2 linked regions of the Homo sapiens genome follow. The protein of the gene in region 1 interacts with the protein of each later gene in a biochemical or structural test. Each region holds a gene or a part of one and is shown on either strand. Other genes may lie near its edges.

Evidence for each region. Proteins that work in one complex are often made in the same cells at the same time.
Region 2: the proteins of MRAS (region 1) and RAF1 form a complex in vitro, tested with the Homo sapiens proteins (one study listed by BioGRID).

Annotation. Positions count from the first base shown.
Region 1 is NC_000003.12:138,355,017-138,358,612, forward strand, and holds part of MRAS (ras-related protein M-Ras isoform 1 precursor), read left to right. Parts: exon of another isoform or gene 1-402; intron 403-3,596. UniProt on the Homo sapiens protein: Signal transducer in the Ras-MAPK signaling pathway that regulates cell proliferation and survival. Core component of the SHOC2-MRAS-PP1c (SMP) holophosphatase complex that regulates the MAPK pathway activation.
Region 2 is NC_000003.12:12,654,118-12,657,617, forward strand, and holds part of RAF1 (RAF proto-oncogene serine/threonine-protein kinase), read right to left. Parts: intron 1-3,500. UniProt on the Homo sapiens protein: Serine/threonine-protein kinase that acts as a regulatory link between the membrane-associated Ras GTPases and the MAPK/ERK cascade, and this critical regulatory link functions as a switch determining cell fate decisions including proliferation, differentiation, apoptosis, survival and oncogenic transformation.

The sequences.
Region 1 (3,596 bases):
TCAAGCGATCCTCCCACCTCGACCTCCCAAAGTGCTGGGATTATAGGCATGAGCCCCCACACCTGGACACAAAATACATTATATACTCTAAAGTATAGGATTACTTTAAGAGAAGGAAACTAAAAGTATGATGGCTTACTTTGTAATCCATAACTTCACAGTTTTCCCTTCCTGCAGCTTTCACAGAAAAAACCAGGTGCCTGGTACTGGGTCCTTCTCTCTGCCAAGCAGGAGTAAGGCGGCAGAGCCAACCCTGCATCTGCAGTTAGAAGCTCTCCATGACGACAGGACGCAGCTTCTCACCCAACTGTTTGCAGCCTTCTCCTTTCCACCTACTGATTGACTCCTGAGCTGAAGCCTGGTGTTATCCTGTTTGCATGTAGTTTGCCATGAGTTAGAACAGTGAGTAAAGCTCTGCTTTTTAAAGCTGTGCAGAAAGATTCAAAAACTTCTGGAAAGGCTTTCTTATCCAGGGCAGATTCTTGTCAGTCCTTATTGGGGACCGAGATTTCATCTGGTTTCATAATAGATAGTGGGGACCTGCGGGAGACCCCAAGTCCTCTTCATTAAGTGCTGAGAATGTCTTGAAACATTTTCCTTCCCTGAGTTGCCCTTAAAGAATAACACCACCAGGCTGGATGCAGTGGCTCACGCCTGTAATTCCAACACTTTGGGAGATTGAGGCAGGAGGATCACTTGTGGTCAGGAGTTCAAGACCAACCTGGCCAACATGGTGAAACTCCGTCTCTACTAAAAATATAAAACTTAGCTGGGCGTGGTGGTGTGTGCCTGTAGTCTGAGCTACTCCAGAGGCCAAGGCAGGAGAATTGCTTGAACCCGGGAGGCAGAGGTTGCAGAGAGCTGAGATCGCGCCACTGTGCTTCAGCCTGGCGACAGAGAGACTCTGTCTCAAAGAATAAAAATAAAAAATAGCACCACCAGATCCTTTTCCCTCATTCTGATGGAGATGCTGCAAAAGCCAGCGAAGGCTGGGTGCTGAGAGACCTCAGAAGGCCCTGCTTTACTGGGGCTTATCTTGCAATGGAAGCCGTACCAGTGAAGGCAGTTGAACATATTATACAACCAGTGCCTATGAGATTATGTGGAAATCCACATATGTGTTATACTTACAGGCATACCTTTTTAAAGACAAGTTTGGGTTTAAAAAGAAACTACTTGGCATACTGTATATTAGGCTGGCCCTAGTATACCAAGTACACAGATTAAATGTAAAAGTATTTGTGGGCATGTGGATCTGTGGGGAGATTGCTGGAGTGTAGTGGATTCAGGAGACTCCCCCACCCCTTTAGGAGCTGACCATTTATGGGGGGTGTTGGCGGCAGATTCTTGCCTCTCAAAAGCATTATGTATTCATTTCAAAAGCAAAATTAATTTTGGTTCAGTTTAGCTTTTTTTCCTGATCCTTTAGAATTTCAACGTGCCTTCTTGAAAATTCTCCCTTTTTAGATAACCCACAAATTCATTTCTTTATATTTTCACTCCACTGGAAATGGAGGCTCAAGGAGGAGACAGGCAAAGCCGTCTTTCTTGGCCAACACTGCTCTCACCAGTCTATCATGGTCTTCTTTCAATGTCTGCTTTATTATAACCAGAGATGATAGAAGGAGGGTGGGATCACTGTCCCGAAGACTTGGGGGCGTATATTTTTAAAAACTTCTATGAGCTATGCCTCCTTAGCCTTCCCTCTCCACCCACATTCCTCAGGTTGAGGTTCCTGGGGCAGAGCTGGAAGGCCTAGTCTGTCTCATGCTCCTGCTGAGGAAGTCCAGCCCAGGAGAGGCCAGGTGCCCTGGCACTCCCAAGCAATTAAGGCCAGCTGGCATCATAGCCTTCCCATCCACCCCTACTCACTGACCCCGTCCCCCCGTCCCACCCACCGCAGTGGACAGCTGCCTGAATCCACTAATCTGGGGCTGGGTGGGTGTTTCCTGCATGTTTGAGATTTTAGGAGGAAATCAAAATAAAGAAACAAAGCCTTTGTTTTATTTCTGGACTCCCAACTGGGTATGGCTGGAGGGATGGAAAGCAGGGAACAGGAGGAGCAGGTCACTTGGCACTTCAACAAAATAACCATTCTAATAGAGCATTTAACAGGAACTTTTTCTATTTAGGGTTGGGGTGGGTAAATAGGAAAGACGGCAGGGCTGGGAGAGCCCCTTTGTGTGGAAGGAGAAGGTGGGGCCGCCCTTGCCCCAAGCGGGGCCTCTGGCAGTGCCTGGTGTTCAGGCAGGGAGGGGTCTGAGGCCACCCAGCCGGGCTGCAGAATTGGCAGCCTGGGGACTCAGGGACTTTCAGTCCTCCCTTCCTGAAGGAACCCTCTGCTCCAGTTCTGTCCCACTACTTGTCTGTGTGAATCTCCACCTCTATAGCCTCCTCTTCCATATCTGTAATGGGAGTATCCCAGCCACACTCTGGCCTTTCTTCTCTAGTCCAGTTATACTGGGTCAGGCTCTCACCTGACATGTGGAAATGAAGAGGTACATCCCCCAGTATTTCTTAATTCTTCCAAAGGATTTTCTCCTTGTAGAAATTCTCTGAGGGTTTCATTTATTTTCTTTAAAAATTGCCCAAGTATTGATGACAGCCCTCCCCATCTGCAGTATTTCTGAAGATTTCAGGGTATGGGCCATGCCCACTGGCCGCCTGGCCTCCACTCCACTTTGCCCCATGTGCATACAGTAAGGTTGGCTTCTTCATCTGCTAAGCCACTATTATTGCATGTAACAGGCATCCACCAAGGGCTTTTAAGAAAGGGAGTTGTCTGCAGCCCAGATCAGGGCAGAAGTTAAAAATGAATGTCAGACACCCTCCCCTTGCTTGCTCACACCCTTGGAGAATGTCTCTGTGGCTGTCTCCTCAAACCTAGTTTACTGCTATTTTCCAGGGACCAATTTTCCTGGATACTTTCCCCCAGACCTTCTGAAAACTCCAAATTTTCATTACTTTTGATTGCAGAACAAGGATAACAATCTGTCTTAGACTAGGCTGTGGGCTGCCCTTGTCAGATGTAAAGGGGTCTGGGCATGGTGGCTCACGCCTGTAATCCCAGCACTTTGGGAGGCTGAGGTGGGTGGATCACTTGAGGTCAGGAGTTCGAGACCAGCCTGGCCAACATGGTGAAACCCCATCTCTACTAAAAAAATACAAAAATTAGTGAGGCCTGGTGGCATGTTCCTGTAGTAACAGCTACTTGGAAGGCTGAGGCAGGAGAGTCGCTTGAATCCAGGAGGCAGAGTCTGCACTGAGCCAAGATTGTGCCATTGCACTCCAGCCTGGGCGACAGAACAAGACTCTCTCAAAAAAAAAAACAAAGATATAAAGGGGCCATTAAATAACTCATCTAAAAAAGAATTAGGCACTCTAGACCTTACCTTTACCTACAGTAAGAACCAGCAGAAGTGCTGGGATTATTAAGCTATCATTATTACTAGCCAGGTCAAATCAGTCCTCTCCTAATGACCAGGGCAAAGCCAGGTGTTATTTTTTCCCTTTCCTGTTAGAACATTTTGTAACATAAGGATTAGAGATGATGTAGATTGACAATATTTATTGAGTACCTTCTCTGTGCCAGATAT
Region 2 (3,500 bases), about 130 Mb from region 1:
AGTAGCTGGGACTACAGGCGCATACCACATGCCTGACTAGTTTTTTTGGTTTTAGAGATGGGGTCTCACTATGATGCCCAGGCTGGTTTTGAACTCCTGGCCTCAAGCAATCCTCCCTCCTTGGCCTCCCAAAGTGCTGGGATTATAGGCATGAGCCACAGAGGCTGGCCCTAAATACATTATAGAATAAAAAAGTATGAGAGGCCAGGCACAGTGGCTCATGCCTATAATCCCAGCATTTTGGGAGGCCAAGGCGGGAGAATCACTTGAGCTCAGCACTTCGACATCAGCCTGGGCAACATGGCAAAACCCCATCTCTACAAAAAATACAAAAATTAGCTGAGTGTGGTGGCACACACCTGTAGTCCCAGCTACTCAGCAGGTTCAGGAGGGAAGATGGCTTGTGCCTGGGAGGTCAAGGCTACGGTGAGTGGAGATCGCACCACTGCACTCCAGCCTGGGCAATGGAGTGAGACTGTGTCACTCACAACACAAAAAAAGGGTATGAGTATAAAGTAACTACAACTGTGTGTATCAACTTATAGAAAAACTTTATTCATTTTTTTTTTTGCTTATTTTTCTTCTTACACCTCACAAGGATGAAAGAAAGTGTTCTTTTTAAAAAGATGTCATTAATTGTGTACATAATGTATCCCTTTGAACAACATTATACACAAGTTTAAGAGGGAGGAAAAAACCCATCAGATCCAAATATAGCCAAATTCAAAGGTTCTGGTTTGCCCATTACATCTAAGTAGCAATAAGAAGAAAAGGAGGGCTGGGCGCAGTGGCTCAAGCCTGTAATCCCAGTACTTTAGGAGGCTAAAATGGGAGGATCAATGGAGGCCAGGAGTTCGAGACCAACCTGGTAAACATAGTGAGACCCCCCCCCCGCCATCTCTAAAATAGTAAAAATAATAATTTTTTAAAATGCAAAAAGCCTACAACCACTTCACAGTCATTAGGGTTGTTATTTTATTTATTTATTTTTTGAGACGAAGTCTCACTCTTGTGGAGTGCAATGGCGCAATCTCAGCTCACTGCAACCTCTGCCTCCCGAGTTCAAGCGATTCTCCTGCCTCAACCTCCCAAGTAGCTGGGATTACAGGCATGCGCCAACAAGCCCAGCGAATTTTTTTTGTACTTTTAGTAGAGACGGGGTTTCACCATGTTGGCCAGGCTGGTCTCGAACTCCTGACCTCAGGTGATCCGCCCGCCTCGGCCTCCCAAAGTGCTGGGATTACAGGCATGAGCCACCGTGCCCAGCCCAAGATTGTTACTTTAAAAATTAAAAAAGAAAAAATAACAAGTGTTGGAAAAGATGTGGCAAAACTGGAACCCTTGTGCTTTGCTGGTGGGAAATGTAAAATGGTGCAGTCACTGTGCAAAACAGTTTGGCAGTTCCTCAAAAAGTAAACACAGAATTACCATATGATCCAGTAATTCTACTCCTGTGCATTACCCTAAGGCACTGAAAGCAGGGGCTCCAACAGATATTTGTACACCAATGTTCACTGCAGCATTATTTACAACAACCAAAAGGTGGAAATAATCCAAGTGTCCATCACTGATGAGGAGATAAACAAAATGATATATTCATACAATGAAATATTATTCAGCCATAAAAAGGAATAAAATACAGATACATGCCACCACCACATGGATAAACCTCAAAAATGTGCTAAGTAAAATAAGCCAGACAAAAAAGGCCAGATAGTGTATGACTCCCCTTACATGAGGTACCTGGAATAGGCAAATTCATAGAGAGAAAGTAGAATAGGGGTTACGAGGAACTGGGCATAGGGAGGAATGAGGAGTTCTTGCTTAATGAGTACTGTTTCTGTTTGAGGTAACAAAAAGGTTCTGGAAACGAGTAGTGGCGATGGTTTTAAGACATTGTGAATGTTGTTAAATGTCACTGGATTGTAGATACACACACACACACCCCACCCCCAATCCGCCCCCTTCCAACTTACATAAGACAGCCTAGGGGTCCATTTTGCATTGTCAGGCAATACTAGATAATACTAGCCAGGGAAATCACAATCTCTCCTCTCAAAATCACACTATAATGCTGGACCAGACTAAGGTCAAAAATGGTAGAAGATTATCATTTATCCCCCCATTCTCTCTGGGTATAACTTTCTTCCATATCTAAAACCTATGAATGCAAAAGGAAATAGCCAGCATGGTAACAGCTGCTTGAGCTGAAGAGTCAGTGTCCTGCTAAAGCAGGCAAATGTCATCAAGGAGCTAGCAGGCAGAACCTAGAGCACTCTACATATAATGCCCAATAGAGGGAGAAGCTTAAGCAACTTACCTCCTCCAACAGACAGGTCCTAAGTTACAAAGTTCTAAGTTTGAATTTAGTAAGTGTAGCCTCTTTACTGTAAGCATTTTGGAGAGATGGCAGTAGAGTGAAACTAAATCCATAAGTGATTAACCTCTGATTAATGTTTGCTGTGTAAGACAAGGTTTTGAGAACTGGAGATATATAAAAAAGGATAAGACATGCCCCACTGGAAATATATAGGCAAGAGTAAGACATGCCTCATTTTTAAACTGAGACATAAGACATCTATACAAGAAATTCAACTTGGCCACTGCGGTGGCTCACACCTGTAATCCCAGCATTCTGGGAGGCTGAGACAGGTGGATCATCTGCAGTCAGGAGTTCAAGACCAGTCTGGCCAACATCATGAAACCCCATCTCTACTAAAAATACAAAATTTAGCCGGGCGTGGTGGCAGATGCCTGTAATCCCTGCTACTTGGGAAGCTGAGACAGGAGAATCACTTGAACCCGGGAGACAGAGGTTGCAGTGAACCAACATCACGCCACTGTACGCCAGCCTTTGTGATAAGAGTGAAACTCCATCTCGGGGAAAAAAAAAAAAAAGAGGAATAGATAAAAGTAAGGAAATGTCAGCCTCTCTCAATTAGATAAGGTCCTTGAAGGTAGGAACTTGCCTTATGCTGCACCAAGTGCACTGGCCTGCACCTACAGGGGCCTAAAAATACTGGCTTTTGATTTCCACTAAACATACTATTACTATGAGAAAGCCATGTGAGCAAGACACAGAAGCAAGAATTGTATATACTTAGTCTGGTAGCCAGGGAGAGCCTGGAAGATTTGAGCAAGAAAGTAAGGCCAGCACATCTACCCTTAAATATTTTTGTGTCGTCACAAAATAGGATACATAAGAATTCACATTTCCCTCTGTGAAAGGAAGCTGGGTAGCTAGAGAACAAAGGAGAACGTAGAATAACTATGCACAACATAACTTTCTATATCCTTTAAATTTTGTGACATCTGACATTATTACTTACTCAAAGAAAATAATATTTAATTCTTAAGAATTTCCAGGCAGGGGCCAGGCGCAGTGGCTCACACCTGTAAATCCCAGCACTTTGGGAGGCCGAGGTGGGCAGATTACCTGAGGTCGGGAGTTCGAGACCAGTCTCACTATCATGGAGAAACCCCATCTCTACTAAAAATAC